3 separate regions of the Homo sapiens genome follow, and all the other regions are linked to region 2. The links come from fine-mapping of genetic effects on plasma protein levels. A gene starts in region 2. Each other region holds a variant in brackets. All regions are shown on one strand. Distances are between the middles of the regions. Region 1 overlaps ADA2 (adenosine deaminase 2). Region 2 holds the start of ADA2 (adenosine deaminase 2). Region 3 has its middle 21 kb from the start of CECR3.

The links. PIP is the posterior inclusion probability: the model's chance that the variant is causal. Protein levels are from antibody-based Olink assays in UK Biobank. Linkage for the fine-mapping came from a reference panel and not from the study's own genotypes, which makes the PIPs less certain.
Region 1: its variant is fine-mapped to the plasma level of the ADA2 protein (UK Biobank, PIP above 0.99). The variant lies in the coding sequence of ADA2. If it changes the protein, the assay may bind it differently, which can mimic a change of level.
Region 3: its variant is fine-mapped to the plasma level of the ADA2 protein (UK Biobank, PIP above 0.99).

The regions. Positions count from the first base shown.
Region 1 is chr22:17,184,355-17,192,533 of GRCh38, reverse strand. It overlaps ADA2 (adenosine deaminase 2), which reads left to right. Exons shown (of 10, transcript NM_001282225.2): 5 at 724-851; 6 at 2,502-2,592; 7 at 4,087-4,195. Among named protein-coding and RNA genes, the nearest start is that of HDHD5-AS1, 29 kb to the right of the region's middle. RefSeq lists enhancers at 2,199-2,699, 3,588-4,087, 4,088-4,589. The variant A/G (reference allele first, on the strand shown) is at 4,118.
Region 2 is chr22:17,215,822-17,224,000 of GRCh38, reverse strand. ADA2 (adenosine deaminase 2) reads left to right here and starts at 4,566. Exons shown (of 10, transcript NM_001282225.2): 1 at 4,566-4,645. RefSeq lists enhancers at 4,779-4,908, 4,919-4,988, 4,829-5,189.
Region 3 is chr22:17,241,895-17,250,073 of GRCh38, reverse strand. No RefSeq gene overlaps it. Among named protein-coding and RNA genes, the nearest start is that of CECR3, 21 kb to the left of the region's middle. RefSeq lists enhancers at 6,246-6,505, 6,526-6,585. The variant A/C (reference allele first, on the strand shown) is at 4,495.

The DNA.
Region 1 (8,179 bases), 31 kb after region 2:
TCCCTTAGCTTCCTTGTCACCTGCCCACTCCCAACTCTCCCCACTCTGCTCTCACTGTGTCCCCCTTGCTGTCCCTGGTGGCAGTGGCCGCCTTGCAGCTGCTGCACCTGGAGTTAGGGAAGCAGTGGGGAGGTGAGCAGGTAGTGGGGAATGACGTCATTCTCAGATCACTCTTTCTAGCTTTCATCCTCTCCCCCCGTGACCTGCTCTTCAACCATTATGCAGATGCTTAATGGGCACCTACCCTCGCGTGTGCCATGTGCTGTTTTAAGTGCAGTGACCCAGCAATGAAGGAGACAGGTGGGCATCAGCATCAGGGTTATCCCAGAGCCAGCTAGGAATTCCCCATGCAGCAGCAGAGACAATGCCCAAGGCCGTAGAGGACCTGAACAAGGGAAGCACAAGTCCAGCCTGGCTGGACTTTTGGGAACAAGGCCACTTGGCCTAATCCAAACACAAATAAAACTGTTTTGTGGGTCCCCTGACCCCATCTACTTTTCCCAGAGCTCGTTGATGGCTGGGAAGGAGTTGACTGGGAAGGAGGTGGCTGGGCAAGGGTGGCTGGGCAGGGGTGGCTGGGCAAGGGTGGCTGGGAAGGGGTGGCTGGGAAGGGGGTGGTTGGGCAGGGGTGGCTGGCCAGGGGTGGCTGGGCAGGGGTGGCTGGGAAGGGGGTGGCGTCTCTCACTGCTCACCTGACGGCTCCTGGTTGTGCTTTCTTCCCAGGTGTATGAGCTCAGTGGAGAGCACCATGACGAAGAGTGGTCAGTGAAGACTTACCAGGAAGTAGCTCAGAAGTTTGTGGAAACTCACCCTGAGTTTATTGGAATCAAAATCATTTATTCGGATCACAGGTGAGAGAGAATATTGCTGAAAAGCTCGGGTTGGGAGGCTGGGATGCAGGCAGAGCTACTAGGCTGGGAGGGGAGGGGTGAGAAGCGGGGCTGGGAGGCCGGGAGAGGCCCAGCACTGGTGCCAAGGAGCTGTGCTGTGCCTGTGTGAGAGCACAGTCCTAGGTAAGTGCGGTGACCCAACAATGAATTGCTGCCTGAAGCCACTTCTAGTTCAGGTCTTCACCCCCAAACTGAAATGAAGAATGTGTGAATTTCCCAGATAATTCTCGGCTGTGACCCCACATTGGCCTGGTGACTCATTTATGAGCATAATGGTTTTGCCTGAATGTTTGGATAATTGGCCCGTTTTTGGTTTCAATTTGCCTCTGGGTTCTGTGTGTGGTTGTGTGTGAGTCCTTGATCACGGAGACACCCTGAGTGGCACTGGCTCAAGTCTGCGTGTGGGGACCTCCAGTAGTACCATGTGCGTGGCCTGGCACGTGGGTGAAAGACCCACTCTTTTTCCCAGGGAAGCACAGAAAGCTTTGCAGCTTAATTGTCCTTCTGACTTTACCAGACAAGACCCCTCCCCTCACTTTAAAGAGCAGCCAGTCTAAGGCTGGGACCTGTCCATGGTCGCAGCTGCAAGGGCAGCAGCCAGTGGGGTCCCTCGGAGTCAGGCACGGGGCGGGCACCGAAGGGATCCGGCAGCGGCTCCCTCTGCTCAGCTCACCCACGAGCCTGGGCTCTGGAGGGCACTGACTCCCCAGGAGCCTCCTCCCATGCCCAGTCTTCCTGAGTCCCCTTCCCTTCCATGGGGCCTGGGGCCTGGAGGAGCTAAGCTCTGGCTTTGTGCCGGTCCCCCTAGGAGGGAGCTTGCAGGATGGGCCCACGTTCTGCTCAGAGGCTCCCTGGTGCCAGGTGCCCCTTCCCAGGGCCAGTGGCAGGAGGGTGTGAGGGCTGAGCTGAGTGCATCAGTGCCCCCAGGTTTGCCTAGGCTCTGGGGAGAGGCCATGGGTGGGGCAGGCCAGGAAGGCTTTATCCCCACAGAGCCGAGGATTGGAGCAGGAGAGCCAGTGGCAGGGCAAAGACCTTGAGCCTGTCGTGGGCTTGCGCCAGACCCTGTGTTTTGGGGCTTTTGTTGTCATGCTGCCTGCCTTGCCCCTGTAGGGTTCTGCAGTACCCAGGATCTTGCTGACTTAATCAGCAAGAGGCCATATGGTTACTGGGTCCAGCCGACCCATCAGGGACTTGGGTGACCTGTGGCCCTTTGCAGGTGTGCAGTGGACAGAGAGCTGCCCCTGAGCTGCATCCATGTCTACACCCCCGACAGAGATGCAGGGAGAGCTGGGAACAAGGCCACCTGGCCTCCTCTAAACGCAGACAAATAAAACTGTTCCCGTGGGTCCTCTGACCCCATCTACTTTTCAGAGACTACAGGTGCCCCCAGAGCCAGCAAGGGTCTTTGATAAGAATGGATTTGGGCTACATATCTCTCAGGGATCACAATGGCCTGGTCAGGGTGGGGTCAGGAGGGCAGGGGTGCCTCAGGTTTGGGAAACGGGACCTGCACACTTGGGGCTGGCCCAGCCCTGCACGGAGGGTGTGCTCTGGGGTTTGTGCTCTGTCGGTGCTGGGCACTGTCTCCTGGCTTCTCTGTCTGTCTCACAGATCCAAAGATGTGGCTGTCATCGCAGAATCCATCCGAATGGCCATGGGGCTCCGAATCAAGTTCCCCACGGTGGTGGCAGGGTTTGACCTGGTAACCCATGCTGTGAACAGAAGGGCTGCCTGTTAAGGGGGCATGCGAGGATGCCTGTCTGGGTGGAGCGGCAACTCCCTGGGAAGGGAGCGCAATGTGCCTGTTGGTACCCTGACATCCCAGGGCAGGCTCAGGCTGCTGACACAGCAGGGCTGCTCAGAGCTCAGCGCTGACCCTCTTCAGAGGCCTACAGGGGACGGCTGTCACTGGAGAAGGGAGAGCAGACAGCCAGTTCTAACAAGCTAACAAGGAAAGTTCCAGAATAAGGATGGCATTCAGGGAGTTTGGACCACAGTTATGGGCTCATTCCCCATGGCCCTGCCTGTGCCCTTTTTTCTATCCCACACTGCTCACCTAGGTGTGGGTCTTAAAACCCTCACCAGCCCCTGTAGCACGCGGGGTGGGGACTGGGGGGTAATGTCTGGAAACAGAGTCCAGGATGGAGCCAGGCCTTTGCAAATCCTCAAGGTAGTGATATTTGTCCCTCCCTCTCCAGCCATCATGCCTGGCCACACCAGTTTTTGAAGCTACACATTCATAGGTGTTGTCATTGTCCCACACCTCCCCACCAAATCGAAGCACAACCAGGACATTTCTTAGGTGACAGCTCGGCAATCTCATAAAGAATCTAGGCCGGGTGCAGTGGCTCATGCCCTCAGCACTTTGGGAGGGCGAGACAGGTGGATCACCTGAGGTCTGAAGTTCAAGACCAGCCTGGCCAACATGGAGAAACCGCATCTCTACTAAAAACACAAAAATTAGCCAGCCTTGGTGGCCTGCACCTGTAATCCCAGCTACTTGGGAGGCTGAGGCAGAATCACTTGAACTCAGGAGGCAGAGGTTGCAGTGAGCTGAGATTGCACCATTGCACTCCAGCCTGGGCGACAGAGCAAGACTCCATCTCAAAAAAAAAAAAAAAAAAGAATCTAGATTAGTCCAGGGCAGTGGCTCACTCCTGTAATCCCAGCACCTTGGGGGGCCAAGGTGGGAGGGTCACCTGAGTCCAGGAGTTCTAGACCAGCCTGAGCAAATCGGTGAGACCCCGTCTTTACAAAATATATATATATATATATTTTTTGCTCTTGGCCAGGCTGTAGTGCATTGGTGTGATCTCAGCTCACTGCAAGTTCTGCCTCCTGGGTTCATGCCATTCTCCTGCCTCAGCCTCCCAAGTAGCTGGGACTACAGGCACCCGCTACCACACCTGGATAATTTTTTGTATTTTTAGTAGAGATGGGGTTTCACTGTGTTAGCCAGGATGGTCTCGATCTCCTGACTTCGTGATCTGCCTGCCTCGGCCTCCCAAAGTGCTGGGATTACAGGTGTGAGCCACCACGCCTGGCCTGCTCCTGGTCATTCTTAAAAGGCTGTGTGACAAAGGTCCCGGCAGTGGTGGCAGGGTACAAGGAAGGGTGTGCACAGGCTCCAGGGCGCGCCATCAGCAAGTGAGGCATGCGCCCTGCAGACACCTCCCTGTCCCTCTCTGTCCTGCAGGTGGGGCATGAGGACACTGGCCACTCCTTGC[A/G]TGACTACAAGGAAGCTCTGATGATCCCCGCCAAGGATGGCGTTAAGCTGCCTTACTTCTTCCACGCCGGAGAAACAGGTGAGCCTGCGGGATGCGAGCAGAGGCAGCGGAGGTGGTCAATGGGAGAGCTCCTGGCCACAGGCCCATGCCTCAGGGTTAGAGCCTACAGGCGTTTCCAGAGCCCTTTCCTGTGCTCTATCTCACTTAATCCTGACAACAGCCCCATGGAGAAGGAATAACAAGGATAATAGAATCAGCCACTTTACATGTATTATTTCTAGTTTCTCTTTCTTCTTTCCTTCCTGTTTTCTTTTCTTCTTCTTCTTTTTTTTTCTTTTTTTTACGGAGTCTCCCTCTGTCGCCCAGCTCACTGCAACCTCGGCTTCCCAGGTTCAAGAGAGTCTCCTGCCTCAGCCTTCCAAGTAGCTGGTACTACAGGCACCTGCCACCACGCCTGGCTAATTTTTTGTATTTTTAGTAGAGACGGGGTTTCACCGTGTTAGCCAGGATGGTCTTGATCTCCTGACCTCATGATCTGCCCTCCTCGGCCTCCCAAAGTGCTGGAATTACAAGGGTGAGCCACTGCGCCTGGCCTTTTCTAATTGATTTCTGATTGTTTCCCCAGTTTTTAATCTCCATTTGATAGATGAAGAGCCCAAGGCTCCAAACACAGTGGTCCAGGGTTAAAGAGCTGGTGCGCAGTGGAGTCTGAATTTGAATCCTTCTTCTTCTTCTTTTTTTTTTTTTTTTTAATTTTTCGTGGTAGGGGCATAATCCTGCAAACTCACATCATCCTACTTTGGCTATAAAAATTCGTTTTAGGCTGGGCACAGGCACAGTGGCTCATGCCTGTAATCCTAGCACTTTGGAGGCTGATGTGGGTGGATCTCTTTAAACCCAGGAGTTTGAGGCCAGCCAGGGCAACATGGCAAAACTTTGTCTCTACAAAAAAATACAAAAATTAGCCAGGCATGATGGTACACACCTGTGGTCCCACCTACTTAGAGGCTGAGGTGGGAGGATTGCCTGAGCCCAGGCTCACTGAACTCCAGCCTGGGTGACAGAGCTAGACCCTGTCTCAAAAAAAAAAGTGTTTTAGCCAGGTACAGTGGCTCACATCTGTAATTCTAGCACTTAGGGAGGCAGAGGCAGGAGGATCACTTGAGCCCAGGAGTTTGAGACCAGTCTGGGCAACATAGTAAGATTCCATTCTACACAAAAAGGAAAACAAATTTTTTTTTTTTTTTTTTGAGATGGAGTCTCGCTCTGTGGCCCAGGCTGGAGTGCAGTGGTATGATCTCGGCTCACTTGCAAGCTCGGCTTCCTGGGTTCATGCCATTCTCCTGCCTCAGCCTCCCAAGTAGCTGGGACTACAGGTGCCCGCCACCACGCCCGGCTAATTTTTTGTATTTTTAGTAGAGACGAGGTTTCACTGTGTTAGCCAGGATGGTCTCGATCGCCTGACCTTGTGATCCACCCGTCTAGGCCTCCCAAAGTGCTGGGATTACAGGTGTGAGCCACTGCACCTGGTCAATTTTTTTGTTTTTTGAGATGGAGTCTCACTCTGTCACCCAGGCTGGAGTGCAGTGGTGCGATCTTGGCTCACTGCAACCTCTGCCTCCCGGGTTCAAGTGATTCTTCTGCCTCAGCCTCTGGAGAAGCTGGGATTACGGGCATGCACCACCATGCCTAGCTAATTTTTGTATTTTTAGTAGAGATGGGGTTTCACCATGTTGGTTAGGCTGGTCTTGAACTCCTGACCTCAAGTGATCCACCCACCTCAGCCTCCCAAAATGCTGGGATTACAGGCTTGAGCCACGGAAAAAAATTCTTTTGAGACAGAGTCTTACTGTATCGCCCAGGCTGGAGTGCAGTGGTGCGATCTCGGCTCACTGCAACCTCTGGCTGCCAGGTTCAAGTGATTCTCGTGCCTCAGCCTCCCGAGTAGCTGGGATTACAGGCGCCCACCAACACACCCGGCTAATTTTTGTATTTTTAATAGGGATAGGGTTTCACCATGTTGGCCCAGGCTGGTCTTGAACTCCCAACCTCAAACAATCCACCCGCCTTGGCCTCCCAAAGTGCTGGGATTACCCGGCCTCATGTGATATTTTGATGCCTGTATATAATGTGTATGAATTGGAACACTTTCTGACGCTCTCCATCCTCCGAGTGAATTGTGCTTGAGAGGTTAACTGATCTGCCTAAAGCCACACAGCTGGAAATTGGCAGAAGAGGGAGGAGAACCAGGTCTGCTCCTTGTCTTTAGGATGTTCTGTCCCGCATTATCGTAGGAGAGGAAACCCTGCCCTGCCCCATGCAGGCCCTGGCTGCTGTTCCTCCTGAAACGCCATCAGCCCAGCCACATCTTTCTTTCCCAGAACTCCATCCTTGGGCTCGCTCAGTCATCTCAGCCCCTCCCGTATTCCAGTCCTTAAAATGTGTAAACCCTAACTAAGAAAGATCACGGCTGCAATTTCAGATCCAAAGGAAGATTTGGGAGGAGGCTGTTCACATGGAGGCCGGGACCAGGAGGGCAGCTCTCTTCAGCATCCCACCTGTCACCCTCGGAAGACCAAAGAGGGGTGGAGAGAGTGGTGGGCAATTTCATTTCCCACCCAGGCTTAAGCTCTGCTCTATCACACCTTCTCTCAGAGAAAGGGACCTTGTGCATTAATCTCTTTTTCCTGACATTTCGAGTCAATTTAGATCCAATTTAGATCAAAGTCTGCTCTAGGAGAGCAGAAGAATTGTTTGAGGGGGAGGGGGTTGGGCGAGGGTGTTGTTAACCTTGAAGAGCTTGTGGTCTGGTTGGGGAAAATCATACTTATGTGTGTGAAATAATTCTGGCCCTACAAAACATTGCAGCTCAGGACCTAACAGGTTCCAAGATGTATGGTCCTTGGAGATGATTTTGCCAGGACTTGGGTATCTAATACCTAAAAGTAATGTCCTTATTTTTATTTTTTTATTTTATTTTATTTTATTTTATTTTATTTTTTGAGACGGAGTCTCGCTCTGTCCCCAGGCTGGAGTGCAGTGGCACGATCTCAACTCACTGCAAGCTCCGCCTCCCAGGTTCACGCCATTCTCCTGCCTCAGCCTCCCGAGTAGCTGGGACTACTCGGGCGCCTGCCACCACGCCCGGCTAATATTTTTTGTATTTTTAGTAGAGACGGGGTTTCACCATGTTGGTCATGCTGGTCCGGAACTCCTAACCTCGTGATCCGCCCACCTCGGCCTCCCAAAGTGGTGGGATTACAGGTGTGAGCCACCACACCCGGCCAATATCCTTATTTTTAAAAAGAAAAAGAAATCTTTAAAAACCAGTGAAAATCCACCAAAACACATGTGCTACATAGCAATGGAAATTCTTGAGTTTTATTTCTATCAGGAAAGTGGAGTTTTCATATATATATATATATATATATATTTTGACATGGGCACTCTGTCACCCAGGCTAGAGTGCGGTGGTGTGATGACAGCTCACTACAGCCTCCACCTCTGTCACCCAGGCTAGAGTGTGGTGGCGTGATCACAGCTCACTACAGCCTCCACCTCCTGGGTTCAGGTTATCCTTCCACCTCAGCCTCCTAAGTAGCTGGGACTGCAGCCACATGCCACCATGCCTGGCTAATTTTTGTATTTTTTGTAGAGACAGGGTGTCTCTATGTTGCCCATGGCTGGCCTTGAACTCCTGGGCTCAAGCAATCCTCCTGCCTCAGCCTCCCAAAGTGCTGCGATTACAGGTGTGAGCCACCGCACCCAGCCAGATGTTCATATTTTATATGTGAATCCATTAGAATGCTTATGGCTGCAAGAATAGAGTACATGCATCCCACCGATTTTACAATAAGGACATTTGTTATCTCACGTAAGAAGCAATCTGTGCTATGCCCATTGTGTGGGTGATTCTGCCCCACTTGGTTGTCGGATGGTGAATCACATTTGGGGTGACCACATCCAGTGAAGCAAAATAGGAGACAGCCTCCCAGTGGATCCCCTTTTATCAGGGAGGAATCCCCCAAAGCTCCCCAACAAATAACCTCCCAGTCCAGCGTT
Region 2 (8,179 bases):
AGGGGCAAACAAAGCTCCACACCTCACTGGCATTGGAAATAGAGTGATAATGCAATAGCAATAGAAAGTATTATGATAAATGCTCATAATAATGATACCAAGTCCTCAAAAAAGATCAAATTATGTTCACTGCACCCTAAGAAGCCAGAAAAAATACTAGAAAGATTTGTGCAAGGAAAATTACTTATGCTGGGCTGGGCACGGTGGCTTACACCTGTAATCCCAGCACTTTGGGAGGCCGAGGCGGGCAGATCACCTAAGGTTGGGAGTTGGAGACCAGCCTGACCAACATGGAGAAACCCCGTCTCTACTAAACAAAACAAAACAAAACAAACAAACAAACAAAAATTAGCCAGGCGTGGTGGCACATGCCTGTAATCCCAGGTACTCGGGAGGCTGAGGCAGGAGAATCACTTGAACCCGGGAGGCGGAGGTGGTGGTGAGCCGAGATCATGCCACTGCACTCCAGCCTGGGCAATAAGAGTGAAACTCCTTCTCAAAAAAAAAGAAAAATGAAAATCATTTATGCTGTGTAATTGTATAGTTGCTTTATAGTTTTAAAAATATTTTCAGCCAGGCACAGTGGCTCACGCCTGTAATGCCAGCACTTGGAAGACTGAGGCAGGTGGATCACGAGGTCAGGAGTTCAAGACCAGCCTGGCCAAGATGGTGAAACCCCGTCTCTACTAAAAATACAAAAAAAAAATTAGCCAGGCATGGTGGCAGGTGCCTGTAATCCTGGATACTCGGGAGGCTGAGGCAGAGAATTGCTTGAGACTGGGAGGCAGAGGCTGCAGACAGCCAAGATTGTGCCACTGCACTCCAGCCTAGGTGACACAGCGAGACTCTGTCTCAAAAAAAAATTTTCACATATATTATTTCATACATACACACACACAAAAAACTTACTTAGAAAAAAAAAACTTAGTAGGAGGCACATGACATTTTTTCCTTCTTGCAGATTAAAGCTTTGAGTTTTATGGATATTAGGACATTTTCTTCAAAACCACATAGCAGTTCAATGAAAGAGCTAACTTTTCTGCTTCCTAAAAATACTTTGGTGTTTCAAAACACAAGTTCCCAGTGTCTGGAAAAATCACTTATGCCTGGTAACGTCTATTCCTGGGCTCCACTTTTGCTAATTGTGTGTTCCTCCAGGGATCTGCTTCCTTGTGCCCGGTGACTCCCCCACTACTTCAAAAACCTTCCATTTTCTTGCTGCCAGGGAAAGCGGTGTGGTGGAACCCACCTGGGCCTGCAAGGCCGTGCTATGCTTGTTACTAGCTGTGTGACCTTGGGCAAGTTACCTTACTGCCAGGTGCTTCAGGGTACGCCTCTCTCAAGTGGGGATTGCAATAGTCCCTACCTTATAAGATTGCTGCAAGGATTAAATGAGTATATATACACACACACACATACACACACATATTTGTATATACTCATTTATAGGTATGTATTGCTGTAGGGATTAAATGTTATATATATATATATATATATATATATATATATATATATATATATATACACACACACATACATATATAATTCTTAATATGCCTTAGCAATTATTATTTCCATTTTCTTAACTCTGGGTCAGAGAATCTTATTTACCTCATATAACAATCATATATGCAGCACTTTAAACCACTGGTAACTCTGCTATACTCTGTTATAGGTTGTGCATAGCATATAATTCATGATATTGGTGTGAAGAAAGGGATGTTTTAATGAAAATACCTCTCAAATGTTTGTGTAGCCATAGATGATCTTTAATTCTGAAAACCTCTCCTGTCTCCAATTCTGAGGTCATAATCCACCTGTCTCTTCAGGCATCTTTCTGTTGAGGTTTAGTTTTGCAGTCACTAAAAGATGCCTTTGTCCTGTTTTTCTGCCCTGCAGATTTTCAGGTTCTGAACACAAGCCCAGTTTCTGCTTCTGATGATCATTTTCAATAGAGCATAAAAAACAGAGCCATGTTCCACGTTTTTACGGCCTCTGCACTTGGCAAAATATTCTTCCCGAATGGCCTCACGTGTGCTCCCTATCATCACGCCTTTTCAGCTAGGCAACGCTCAGAGTCACACCTGAGTGGAGGCCGACGCCCCTTTGGAGGCGACTCCAGCCATAAAAAGTCCTGCTTGGAGCTGGTTTTAGCCACAGAGGGCCAATAAATGGCCCCTTCTGAATGAGGTGCCCCTGCACCTCTGCAGAGCCTGCTGCCAGCCTCCAGGATCTAACTGGGCTCTGATTCACCGCTCCCAACCCCACATCCAGGTAAGTGTGCCCAGCTCTTGTCTCTGCTTCCACCTCAAGATCTGAGTCTCCACTCCCCAGAACCCGGCAGGTTCTGCCTGACAAGGACCTGCAGTCCTCTGCCAGCTGCCACACCCTTGCCAAGGTGTGACTTGGAGTCCTGGAGCCACCTTCGGAGATGTGAAAATTAGCTCCTACTTTTAGCTAAAGCGTTTGGAAAGAAAAGCTTGATCTTTAGCTTTGACCTGGTCTTTAAAAAAACCCTTCAAGGGGAACATCACACACCAGGGCCTGTCGGGGGGGTCGGGGCTGGGGGAGGGATAGCATTAGGAGAAATACCTAATGTAAATGATGTGTTGATGGGTGCAGCAAACCAACATGGCACAGGTATACCTATGTATCAAACCTGCACATTGTGCACATGTACCCTAGAACTTAAAGTATAAAAAAAACCCACAAAAAACCCTTCACATGATTTACTTTCAGAATTGGTGGTTTCCCTTTGTGCGGCGCTGGAATCAATCTTGTTTCTCCTTATTACTTGCGGTGCATTCTGCTTCCTCTAACTTTCAAAAAATTAGTGTTAAACTCTTTTTTTTTTTTTTGAGACAAAATCTCACTCTGTCATCCAGACTGGAGTGCAATGGTGCAATCTCAGCTCACTGCAACCTCCACCTCCAGGGTTCAAGCAATTCTCCTGCCTCAGCCTCCCAAGTAGCTGGGATTACAGGTGCGCACCACCACACCTAATTTTTGTATTTTAGTAGGGGCTGGTCTCGAACCCCTTCCATTGTGATCCACCTGCCTCGGCCTCCCAAAGTGCTGGGATTACAGGCATGCACCACTGAGCCCAGCCTAGTCTTGAACTCTTGATGAGGGAATCCCTGACCCCTCTGTGTTTTCACTTTGGGATTTCTTCCTGTTTATTAAATGAATGACCTTGGTACTTTTTGGAGAAAATGACAAAAAGGAGCATCAAGGCTCCAGATGTATGGGAGCTGCAGAACTGAAACTGCCGTGGGCTTTTGGGGGTAGATTTGGGGTCTTGGGGGTAGATTTGAGTGGGACTGGGGAGGAGTGGGGTGCAATCGAGTCTTTAGACCATGCATGTGACATGGAGGTCCCTGGTGTAGCCTCCCATGTCTGCATTTCTAATTGGCTTGGATGAGGCATCCCAATAGTTACTTCTAAGAATAGTCATGGCTAATATTTATCAAGAGCTTTCTATGTGGCAGGTACTTTGCATGTGTTTTTCCTTTAATTCTGACAATGGACCCTCTGTGGTGGGTGCTTTTATTATCCACATTTTCAGATGAGGAAACTGAAGTATAGAGAGTTGAAACAACTTGGTCGAGGCCCCACTGCTACAGTGCTAAGGCCAGCTACAAAGCGAGGTCTGACTCTGACCGTCCTGGGTACAGGAGCCTTGTCTGCTCCACTTGTCCCTTGGAGCGTTGTTCTTGCTGGTCCTCTTCACACCCCAGCTCTTGTCTCCTACCTCCTGCCCCCTCTACTGTCCTGTCCCCGCATCCCTGATTTCCCCCCTAAAACATATATTTTATTATAGCTACTTTTTACTCTCTGTCTAATGGGTTGCCCCACAGTCCACAATCACATTTTGAGGAAGGAGAACTTCCCAGAGTTCATGAACAGATTTTGGAGTGCCTCTTTGCGGTGCTTGTTTCCAAAACCAACATGCTGTGGACCTTTCAAAGACACAGTACACACAAACACACACACACCCTCCCTCCAACACAAATAAACCCACATGCGGCCGGGCATGGTGGCTCACGCCTGTAATTCCAGCACTTTGGGAGGCCGAGGTGGGCGGATCACCTGAGGTCAGGAGTTCGAGAGCAGCCTGACCAACATGGTGAAACCCCATTTCTACTAAAAATACAAAAAATCAGTGGGGCATGGTGGCGCACGCCTGCAATCCCAGCTACTCGGGAGGCTGAGGCAGGAGAACTGCTTGAACCCGGGAGGCGGAGGCTGCAGTGAGCTGAGATTGCGCCATTGCACTCCAGCTTGGGCAACAAGAGTGAAACTCTGTCTACAAAAAAAAAAAAAAAAAAAAAAAAACAAACCCCACATGCACATAAACCGAAACACACACGAACACACAAACACCCACATGAACATGCGCACAAGCCCCCCACATCAAACTCAGATGCACACAGCAAGCATGCATGTAAGCCACACACTTGCCACTCTGGCTGCCTCAGCACTGCAGAGCCCCTCTCCCCGGCCTCTAGTTGGATCCCTGGTGCACACTGGAGGGAAATAAAACCTACCCCAACAGGAAGTGAAACAGTTGGTGAGCTTTTCCGGTGCTCTGCACAGATGCTGGGGCGCTGAGCAAACAGCCCTCAGTTTCTGGAGCTGTTCCGAGGTAACTGGGGTCCTTTGGGAGCTGTGGGATGATGAGGTTCAGGAGGTAGCTGGGAAGTCCGGAGCTTGGGCTTGATCCACCTGCACCTCTCCCTGTCTCCATCTGAGCTGGGTCTGAGACTCTCAGTGGAGGAGTAACAGGCTTTCTCCCAACAGGCTTTTGAAAATGGGCCCAAGGGCATTTACTCAGGACCACAGATGCATGTGGCCTACTCCACTGTCACCAGGCTGGAGTGTGGTGGCACGATCTCGGCTCTCTGCAACTTCTGCCTCTCGAGTTCAAGCCATTCTTGTGCCTCAGCCTCCCTAATAGCTGTGATTACAGGCACCCACCACCACGCCCGGCTAATTTTTGTATTTTTAGTAGAGACGGGGTTTCACCGTGTTGGCCAGGCTGGTCTTGAACGACTGACGTCAGGTGATCTGCCTGCCTCGGCCTTCCAAAGGGCTGGGATCACAGGCAGAGCCACCACACCCAGCCTCCTTTCTTCTTAGTCTGGAAGCAAACTACTTTATGAAGTTTTCATGCATCCTCTTTTAAAAGTAAAAGGAAAATCTTGTGGAGGAGAGAAGATGAAGTAGATATAGCAATAAATTGTGAATAAGGATTGTTTTTACTAGTATTCAACCAGGCAGGTCTTGACCACCATTAGATAAACTTCTGTCTGGCAGCCTGGAAAAGTTCACAGTTGCTGGGACACAAATGCTTTTGGGGTCCTTCTTGGAGAGGATGGAGTTGAAGATTTGGGAGCTTGATGGCCTTTGTTATGTGTCACCAGGGAGACAGGGACAAGGGGCGGGGCTGTTGATGGAGAATGTGGCATGGGGTAGGTGGGATGGTGACATAGAAGTCACCGTGCTCCTGCCCTAGAGATTTTAGTAGCAGGCAAACACCGTGGTCAAAAAAGAGAGTCAAGGACTTAATGAAGTTAAAGGGGTTCTGCTGACGTCCAGCACTCTGATTTTGGGGGTACAGCTTCTGCCATAACTGCATATTGCTGATACTAGTTCCTTCTTAAAATTTTCTTTGCTATCTGATGTACTACAGAATAACTGAGCTGGGAAGAATCTTGGATATTAAAATGATTTAATGAGTAGCAAACTTTCCATTTTTGTCATATCCTTGCACCTCTATTTACTTAATATTTTTCTTTAACTTAAAAATTTTTCAACAAAAACAATAATAGTTACGATATCATGGGTTTGATGTGCTAATACATGTTTTAAAATTACCTATCTGTCAACATAACCCCTATCCATTTGTGAGCCACCTAAGATTGTATTTATGCCACTGATGATATTCATGCTGCACTTGGAAAACCACTGATCTTGTCCAAGTTACCTTTTTTGTAGGTGAGGACACTGAGATCTGGAGACGTTAGTGATTTGCCCAAGGTTGCACAGTTAGAATGATACTAATTTGAGGCTGTTCCTAAGGTCTCCTAATTTACAGTCTTGACATGTTCCAGTATGCTGTATCATACTTTCAAGTGTAGAGAAACAATCGTTTTATTTTCATTTTAAAAATTTTATTTACGTATTTATTTTTGAGACAGAGTCTTGCTCTGTCACCCAGGCTGGAGTGCAGTGGTGCAATCTAGGCTCACTGAAACCTCCGCCTCCCAGGTTCAAGAACTTCTCATGCCTCAGCCTCATGAATAGCTGGGACTACAGGTTCAATACACCACGCCTGGCTAATTTTTGTATTTTGGTTTTGCTATGTTGCCCAGGCTGGTATCGAACTCCTGGGCACCAGTGATCTGCCCACCTCAGCCTCCCAAAGTGCTGGGATTATAGGCATGAGCCACTGCCCCTTCTTAAATGTAATTCAAATAGATAACCCAGGTAAAGGAGCAGCATAGAGCCTTGTGTGAGGAGATGCTGAATACATTTCCTTCCTTCAGTCCCTGCTCGTTGCCACCCTGAACTGGCTGCTCTCTGCAAGTTTTGATAATCCTTTCTAATGCTAATGCTCTGAAATACCAAGATGCTGTACCTTGGTGTGGCCACAGAATGATTGACTGTGCTGTGCAAGGTACTCAATCTAAAGACTGTCAGTTCTGGGGCAATTTCTTGTATTCCTTATTGGCTTATTTCCTTCACCTGTTTTTTTTTTCTTTTTCCTTCTGAAATGTCTGTTATTTGGGTGTTGGATTTCTTCAACCAATAATCATCTCATTTTCTTTTCTCCTATTTTGCTTTACTTTTAAAAATATTTTCTTTAACTTCATTTTTAATATTGCTAGTAAATTTTTAAACATTCGGCTTTGCTGTTTTTAATTTCTGAAAGTTCTTTCTAATTCTCATTTTTTTAATCACCTCCTGTTCCTGTTTTACACACACAATGTTTTATGTCTTTAAGGATGTTAATTACAGTTCTTTCAGGTTTTTCTTTTATTTCCTGTGTTGCTTTGTTTCCTCTCAGTTCCTTATCTCTGTGTGTTTTGTTTTGGTTTCTTTCTCAGTTTGAAGCATGTCTTATGATCTTGTGCTCTGGTTATATTTGTTATTTATTTATTTATTTTAACTTTAATCCATTTTATTTGAGTCTCTCTCTCTATATATATGTGTGTGTGTGTGTGTGTTTTTTTTTTTTTTGAGGTGGAGTCTTGCTCTGTTGCCGGGCTGGAGTGCAGTGGCACGAACTCGGCTCACTGCAACCTCTGCCCTCTGGGTTCAAGCAAGTTTCCTGCCTCAGCCTCCCAAGTAGCTGGGATTACAGGCACACGCCACATGGCTAGTTTTTGTATTTTTAGTAGAGACAGGGTTTTGCCATGTTGGCCAGGCTGGTCTTGAACTCCTGACCTTGTGATCCACCTGCCTCGGCCTCCCTAAGTGCTGGGATTACAGGCATGAGCCACCATGCCCGGTCTTAGTTACTCTGAAATATACATAATATTATTGCTAAGTATAGTCACCCTAGTCTACTATGAAACATTAGAACTTATTTCTTCTATCTAACTGTAGGTTTTTTTTTTTCCTGGGAGTGGGGCAGATAGGGTTTCACTCTGTCACCCAGGCAGGAGTGCAATGGCACCATCATGGCTCACTGCAGCCTTGACCTCCCAGACTCAAGTGATCCTCCCACCTCAGCCTGCTGAGTAGCTGGGAGTACAGGTGTGTACCACTACACATGGATAATTTTTATTATTATATTTATTTATTTATTTTGAGATGAAGTCTTGCTTCTTCCCCAGGCTGGAGTGCAGTGGTGCGATATCGGCTCACTGCAACCTCCGCCTCTCAGGTTCAAGCGATTCTCCTGCCTCAGCCTCCTGTGTAGTTGGGATTACAGGTGCACGCCACCACGCCTGACTAATTTTTGTATTTTTAGTAGAGATGGGGTTTCACCATGTTGGTCAGGCTGGTCTCGAACTCCTGACCTCGTGATCTGCCTGCCGATAATTTTTAAATTTTTTGTAGAGATGGGGGTCTCGCTTTGTTGCCCAGGCCAGTCTTCAACTTCTAGGCTCAAGTGATTCTCCTGCCTCAGCCTCTTGAAGTGCTTGTCTATTTGTACCCATAACCAACTTCT
Region 3 (8,179 bases), 26 kb before region 2:
TCTACCTTCCAGGTTCAAGTGATTCTCCTGCCTCAGCCTCCCAAGTAGCTGAGACTACAGGCACGCACCACCATGCCCGGCTAATTTTTGTATTTTTAATAGAGATGGGATTTCACCATATTGGCCAGGCTGGTCTTGAACTCCTGACCTTAGGTGATCCACTTGCCTCAGCCTCCCAAAGTGCTGGGATTACAAGCGTGAGCCACCCGGCCAATATTTTTATTTTTTATTGAGACAGAGTCTCAATATTTTTTGAGACGGAGTCTCACACTGTCCCCCAGGCTGGAGTGCAGTGGTGCCATCTCGGCTCACTGCAACCTCTACCTCCCGGGTTCAAGCGATTCTCCTGCCTCAACCTCCCAAGTAGCTGAGACTACAGGCACACGCCACCATGCCTGGCTAATTTTTGTATTTTTAGTAGAGATGGGATTTCACCATGTTGGCCAGGCTGGTCTTGAACTCCTAGCCTCAAGTGATCCACTTGCCTTGGCCTCCCAAAGTGCTGGGATTACAGGCGTGAGCCACTGTGCCCAGCCTAATTTTTCAGCTTTTAAAACATTTCATTTTATTTATTCAGTATTTATCTATTTAGAAACAGGGTCTTGCTCTTTTTCCCAGGCTGGAGTGCAGTTATGCAATCATGAATCACTGCAGCCTCAAACTGCTGGGCTCAAGCCATCCTCCTGCCTCAGCCTCCTTAGTAGCTGGGACTGCAGGGATTTGCCATCATGTTCAGCTTAATTTTTAAAAAATTTTTATGGAGATGAAGTCTCCTTATGTTGTCCAGGCTGGTCTGGAACTCCTGGTCTCAAGTGATCCTCCCACCTCAGACTCCCAAAGTACTGGATTATAGGGGTGAGCTACCACATCCAGCCAATTTTTCGGCTTTTTGATCTTGGACAAGTCACTTAAGATCCTGAGCCTTGGTTTCCCTACCTTTAAAATGGCACAGGCTTGGCTGGGTGTGGTGGTTTACACTTGTAATCCCAGCCCTTTGGGAGGCCGAGGCAGGCGGATCACTTGAGGTCAGGAGTTCAAGACCAGCCTGAGCAACATGGTGAAACCCTGTCTCTACTAAAAATACAAAAATTAGCCAGTCCTGGTGGCACACAACTGTAGTCCCGGCTACTTGGGAGGCTGAGGCATGAGAATTACTTGAACTCGGGAGGCAGAAGTTGCAGTGAGCCGAGATTGTGCCACTGCACTCCAGCCTGGGTGACAGAGCAAGACTCCGTCTCAAAAGGAAAAAGAAAGGCACAGGGTTGTGTTAGTGGCGAGCAATGTGTTTGCACTGCTATAGTGGAATACCTGGGTAATTTATAAAGAAAAGAGGTTCTGGCTGGGCGCGGTGGCTCACGCCTGTAATCCCAGCACTTTGGGAGGCCGGGGTGGGCAGATCACGAGGTCAAGAGATCGAGACCATCCTGCCTAACATGGTGAAACCTCGTCTCTACTAAAAATACAAAAATTAGCCGGGCGTGGTGGCGGGCGCCTGTAGTCCCAGCTACCCGGGAGGCTGAGGCAGGAGAATGGCGTGAACCCGGGAGGCAGAGCTTGCAGTGAGCCGAGACCATGCCACTGCACTCCAGCCTGGGTGACAGAGCGAGACCCCATCTCAAAAAAAAAAAAAAAAAAAAAAAAAAAAGAGGTTTTATTCGTCTCACGGTTTGAGACTGTCACAAAACAAAAAACAAAACAAAACAAAAGAAAACAAAACAATGGGAAAGCTGTGTTTTACCCTCTGCCATTCTCTTGGCTCTCCATTCATGGTCGCAGGGTGGCTGCTGCAGCGCCAATGGTTACATCCTATTGTGGCAAGAAACAAAGATGGCAAAACGGGAGGAGGATCTTTTCCAAGCTCCTCATCCCCTGCCAGCAAACGTCAGTGTCCGCTTATGCCTCTTTGAGTAGAATGGGTCATATGCCTACTCCTAAGCCAGTTACTGTCAAGGAAGCCTGGAATCCACAGAGTGAGCTATCCAATCACAAGGAAGCCTGGAATCCGCAGAGTTCTAGCCAATCACAAGGAAGCCTGGAATCCGCTAAGTTCTATCCAATCACAACGAAGCCTGGAATCCGCAGCGTTCTATCCAATCACAAGGAAACCTGGAATCCGCAGAGTGAGCTATCCAATCATAGTTCACTCCTTAGGGCTGGGTTCACCTTCCCTGAAAATATTGCCACTGTGAACAAAATAGTAAGGAACAAAGGAGGAACTGGGTGGACAACCAGCAGTGTCTCCCATAGTAACCGAAGATAGTCATTCTCTAATCAACCCTGTCAACAGCTCCCCAAAGGGCAGTGTGTCTACATGGAGCCTAGCAAAGGAAAGCCAAAAAGCCAGGCTCGAGAAATGCCCGCTTTATGTGCAGGGAGAAGTTGATGCCAAAGAGACAGCAAACTGTGAGCGTTCCTTTGCCACATCGTGTGTAAACCCTAATTGCGAAGCTTCATTACAAGACAGGTGACTTTGCTTTCAGAGAAGGTTGCCCAAGTAAAAAGAATAGCTCCTTTTTGGTGAGGATGAAGCACTTGCTTTTTTTTTTTTAGACGGAGTCTCCCTCTGTCGTCCATGCTGGAGTGCAATGGCGGGATCTCGGCTCACCGCAACCTCTGCCGCCCGGGTTCAAGCAATTCTCCTGTCTCAGCCTCCTGAGTAGCTGGGACTACAGGTGCACGCCGCCATGCCTGGCTAACTTTTGTATTTTTAGTGGAGACGGGGTTTCACCATATTGGTCAGGCTGGTCTCGAACTTCTGACTTCAGATGATCCGCCCGCCTCAGCCTCCCAATGTGCTAGGATTATAGGCGTGAGCCACTGTGCCTGGCCTAGCACTTGCTTTTGCTTTTTCTTTTTCTTTTTTTTCTTTTCTTTTTCTTTTTTTTTTTTTTTGAGACAGAGTCTAGCTCTGTCACCCAGGCCGGAGTGCAGTGGCGCCATCTCGGCTCACTATAAGCTCCGCCTCCAGGGTTCACGCCATTCTTCTTCCTTAGCCTCCCAAGTAGCTGGGACTACAGGCACCTGCCACCACTCCCGGCTAATTTTTCTGTATTTTTAGTAGAGACGGGGTTTCACCGTGTTAGCCAAGATGGTCTTGATCTCCTGACCTTGTGATCCACCCGCCTCGGCCTCCCAAAGTGGTGGGATTACAGGCGTGAGCCACGGCACCCGGCAGCACTTGCTTTTTCTAATAACAAAGTGCCGTGACTGCTCTGCCATCTGCCAAGAGCTGTGGAACCAAGGGTCTGGGCTGGAGGCTAGAAGGCCATGGTTCTGGGGACCCCACTTGCACCCTCTTACTGATTTTATGGAGTGGACCCGAGAGCACCAGCTCTGTCTAAAGGGGGCAGCTACTGGTTTTGCCTTGTATGAAGAAGAGTCCCCTTTTGCCCAATATTCTGATTTTTTTTTCTAGGAGAATTTAAAAATTTTAATACTATGTGATGTTGTCTCCTTTTTTTAAAGCTAGCAAAAAATTCAAAATAATATTTTATTTTATTTTGAGACGGGGTTTTGCTGTGTCACCCAGGCTGGAGTGCAGTGGCGTGATCTCGGCTCACTGTAATCTCAGCCTCCCGGGTTCAAGTGATTCTCCTGCCTCAGCCTCCAGAGTAGCTGGGATTACAGACATGTGCCACCACACCTGGCTAATTTTTGTATTTTTAGTAGAGATGGGGTTTCACCACGTTGGTCAGGCTGGTCTCGAACTCCCGACCTCATGTGATCCGCCTGCTTCGGCCTCCCAAAGTGCTGGGATTACAGATTTGAGCCACTCCTCCCAGCCATCAAAAGAATATTCTAAATATGGTGGACCAAGCACAACATCTGAAGGTTCTATTTTGACCTCCAGGTAGGTGTGCATGAGGGATCCTTTTGGGATACTGACAGTGTTCTATAATAAACTCTAGAAGTGATATCCCTGAAAGTATGGTCTTACTGGTAATGTTCTAAAATGTATTAAGGTAATGGCTGTGCAGTTTGGTAAATTGACTAAAATTATTGAATTGTACACTTGAAAGGGATGAATTATATATATAAAATATGCCTCAGCCAGGCGCGGTGGCTCATGCCTATAATCCCAGCACTTTGGGAGGCCGAGGCAGGCGGATCACAAGGTCAGGAGTTCGAGACCAGCCTGACCAAAATGGTGAAACCCCATCTCTACTAAAAATACAAAAATTAGCCGGGTGTGGTGGTGCGTGCCTGTAGTCCCAGCTACTCGGGAGGCTGAGGCAGGAGAATTGCTTGAACCTGGGAGGCGGAGGTTGCAGTGAGCCAAGATCGCGCCACTGCACTCCAGCCTGGGCGACAGAGCGAGACTCCATCTCAAAAAAAAAAAAAAATGCCTCAATAAAGTTGAAAAAAATTTGTCCTGCAGGCTGTAGTTTGTAGTCGAAGGCCTAGAATATTATTCCTAAGGCCTTTCTCCCTTCCTGATTGTGGTTTTGTAGAGGCACCAACCCTGCTGATAGTGAGAACTGACAACATCAGCTT[A/C]TAAGTGAGGGAGTGTGGCCCAGTGGTTCATACATGGGCCATGGAGTCACCTGAGTTCAATTCTGCTTTCCTCAACGACTAGCCATGTGACCTTGAACAAGTGATGTCCCCAGACTAGTCAGCTTTTCAGGACTCAGTTTTCTCATCTCTACAATGACAATGGTTATAATATCTGGAAGATTAAATGATGCCACACATGTAAAGCATCTGGCACAATGTAAGTCCTCAAGTAGTATTTCTCATTAGGAACTCTTGCCACTAAGCCCAGTGACCCGTTTAGTACCTGAACTAAATGAGGTGGAGCTTGCAGTGAGCCGAGGTCGCGCCACTGCACTCCAGTCTGGGCGACAGAGCTAGACTCTGTCTCAAAAAAAAAAAAGATTTTAAAAAGGTGGTGAATTCAAGTTGTGTCTTCAGAAGTTCAGATTTGGGCTCATTTTTCTTGGGTAATCTAGGAGGGTCAATTTTGCACTACCGATCTCCACTCCACCCCAACAAATGTTGCTCCTAAAATGGCCGTGGGACCTCCATTACTTTCTCAGCAAAAGTGAATTCTCGGCTGGGCGAGGTAGCCACGCCTGTAATCCCAGCACTTTGGGAGGCCAAGGCGGGTGGATCATCTGAAGGTGGGAGTTCAAGAACAGCCTGACTAACATGGAGAAACCCCGTCTCTACTAAAAGTACAAAATTAGCCCAGCATGGTGATGCATACCTATAATCCCAGCTAGTCAGGAGGCTGAGGCAGGAGAATCACTTGAACCTGGGTGTCAGAGGTTGTGTTGAGCTGAGATCGTGCCATTGCACTCCAGCCTGGGCAACAAGAGCGAAACTCCATCTCAAAAAAAAAAAAAAGAAGAAGAAGTGAATTCTCACGTACTTGTTTCAGACAGGTTTTTTTTTTTGTTGAGACGGAGTCTTGCTCTGTTGCCCAGGCTGGAGTGAAGTGGCGCGATCTCGGCTCACTGCAAGCTCCGCCTCCCGGGTTCACGCCATTCTCCTGCCTCAGCCTCCCAAGTAGCTGGGACTACAGGCGCCTGCCACCACGCCCAGCTAATTTTTTGCACTTTTAGTAGAGATGGGGTTTCACCGTGTTAGCCAGGATGGTCTCGATCTCCTGACCTCGTGATCCGCCCACCTCAGCCTCCCAAAGTGCTGGGATTACAGGTGTGAGCCACCGCGCCCGGCTCAGACAGGTTTTTAAGATACTGCTAATATAGCACTTGGAATGAAGGCACTCTGGCTGTCACTAGGGCGTGGTCAGTGCCCAGGGACTCCTGCCCATAGAGGAATGAAGCCCTACCCAGAGGCACCCTCTGCACGCCTGTGAAACCCCAGCAGGGGCTGCCACATTCCCTGGGTTATGGGTGCGGCAATGTGAACCGGGAATAAAACCTGGGGCCTTTCAGAGTGGCAGAGGAGGCTGAAAAGAGGTGGAGAGAGCCCAGCTGCACTCACGGGCCAACACAGACCCCTGGTCTAAAAGGAGTCCCCCAGAACGGGTCAGGCCAGAAATCCGTTCTAGTCCTCAGTTCCCCATGTTCTCTGTCCTCTGTGTCTCTCGCCAATTGCATAGGCTCCTCTTGTCTTTCTCTCCTTCCCTCCCCTGCCTGCATCTTCTCAACAGATGCCCTGTGCCGTCAATAAGTAGCCACGGGCCCCCCAAGCAAACAGGGGCATTCTCACCAGTATCTGAGTGCTCCCAAAGGGCTGTGGGGTCCGATCAGGTGGGAATGGGGCACAGATGGGGCTCATTCGCCTGGCCTGTTGGTTGAACTTGCCCCCTGGGGTGTGGCCATAGAGTTGTGGTGGGGAACCCCTTTTTCATGTACCCTGAGTAGGGGAAGCTGTGTGGAGAAAGTGGGGGGTAGGACTCTGCTGAGCAGGGCGAGGCCCACGGTTGTCTCATGACATTAGAAACATGAAATGAAACTCAAGGTCCTGAGTCATCCCTGTGACTGAGGCTTTTGGACTGGCTTTTTTTTTTTTTTTTTTTTGAGACGGAGTTTAGCTCTTGTTGACCATGCTAGAGTGCAATGGCGTGATCTCAGCTCATTGCAACCTCTGCCTCCTGGGTTCAAGAGATTTTCCTTCCTCAGCCTTCCTGAGTAGCTGGGATTACAGGCACGCGTCACCACGCCCGGCTAATTTTGTATTTTTAGTAGAGACAGGGTTTCTCCATGTTGGTCAGGCTGGTCTCGAACTCCCAACCTCATGTGATCCGCCCGCCTCGGCCTCCCAAAATGTTGGGATTACAGGCGTGAGCCACCGTGCCCAGCCTCGGACTGGCTTTTACCATTTTGAACAGAAAGTCTGCAGCGTGAACAATGGCTCAGGCTGATGAATGCCTCAGTCTAAGTGATTTAGCTGGTGCTGACCCGCTCCCTCATTGATCTTCCTCATTCCCAATTCCAGCAGCAATTGAAGTCTGCACCACACAATTTAGAACTCAGTTGTATATCACCTGCTGCTGTTCCTGTTGTTTCCTATGAGTTGGTCTTGCCTTTCCAGCAAGAATTACAAGCTCCTTCAGGACTGGGATCAAGTTTGTTTGATACTCCTTTAACCTCCAACGCCACTCAATAAATACCCCTTGATTAGATCAGATAATATCTGCATTGCAGTGAGCCAACTTGGCACAGAGAGGCACTCAATAAATGCTTGCATGAAGGAGTGATTTTTTCTGTTGACAAAGGACAAGACAGATCTTTCTGAAATTTTGCAGGAGGTACTTACATCTAAACTTGGTCTGCTGATTATGACAAATCTCAGCCCCCTCTTCTGAAATCACTTCCCTCAACTAGTGAAATAGGTTGGTATTAGTATTCCATACTTACAGTGTTGCTGGCTGAGTGGTGTCTCCCCCAAAATTCATGGGTTTGTTTTGTTTTGTTTTGTTTTGTTTTGAGACAGAGTCTTGCTCTGTTGCCCAGGCTGGAGTGCAGTGACACGATCATAGCTCACTGAGCCTCGACCTCCTGGGCTCAAGGGATCCTCCCATCTCAGCCTCCCAATGTGTTGGGGTTATAGTTGTGAGCCACCACTCCTGGCCCAAAACTCGTGTGTTGAAGCCTTAATGCTCAGTACCTCAAAAGGTGACTGTACTTGGAGATAGGACCTTTAAAGAGGTGATTAAATTAAAAGGAGGCCCTTAGGGTGGGCCTAATCTAATCTGACTGGCGTCCTTATAGGAACAGGAAATTCGGAGTGGGAAGAGACAGCAAGGGTCCTTGTTGGCACACTGAGGCCTCAGAAGAAACCAAGCTTGTCAACACTTTGATCTTGGACTTCCAGCCCAGGGAACTGTGAGGAAATAAGTTTCTGTTTTTTGAGTCACCAAGATTGTGATATTGTGTGATGGCAGCCTCAGCCAACTAACACAGAGAGAAGTTGAGGTCTCCAGAAGGGAAGTATCTTCTGTCATGGAGTAAGCCTCTAAGCTGTCCAGAATTCCCCCAAGGTCATGTGTCCCTAAGTGCGGGCACTCCCACAGGGGTGCCACAGTCTAGCCGTGTCCTGGATTTACTCCTTCTTGTGCTCCCTTCATACCAAGCCAAGGGTCTCTGTCTCCGTGGGGCATTCTCCCCTGGATCCTGGCCACTCCACACCCCTCCCCACCCTCTCACATTCCCACCTCCACATCCCTGCAAGCACCCATGTGAGATGTGCCCTGCCACACTGCAAGGAA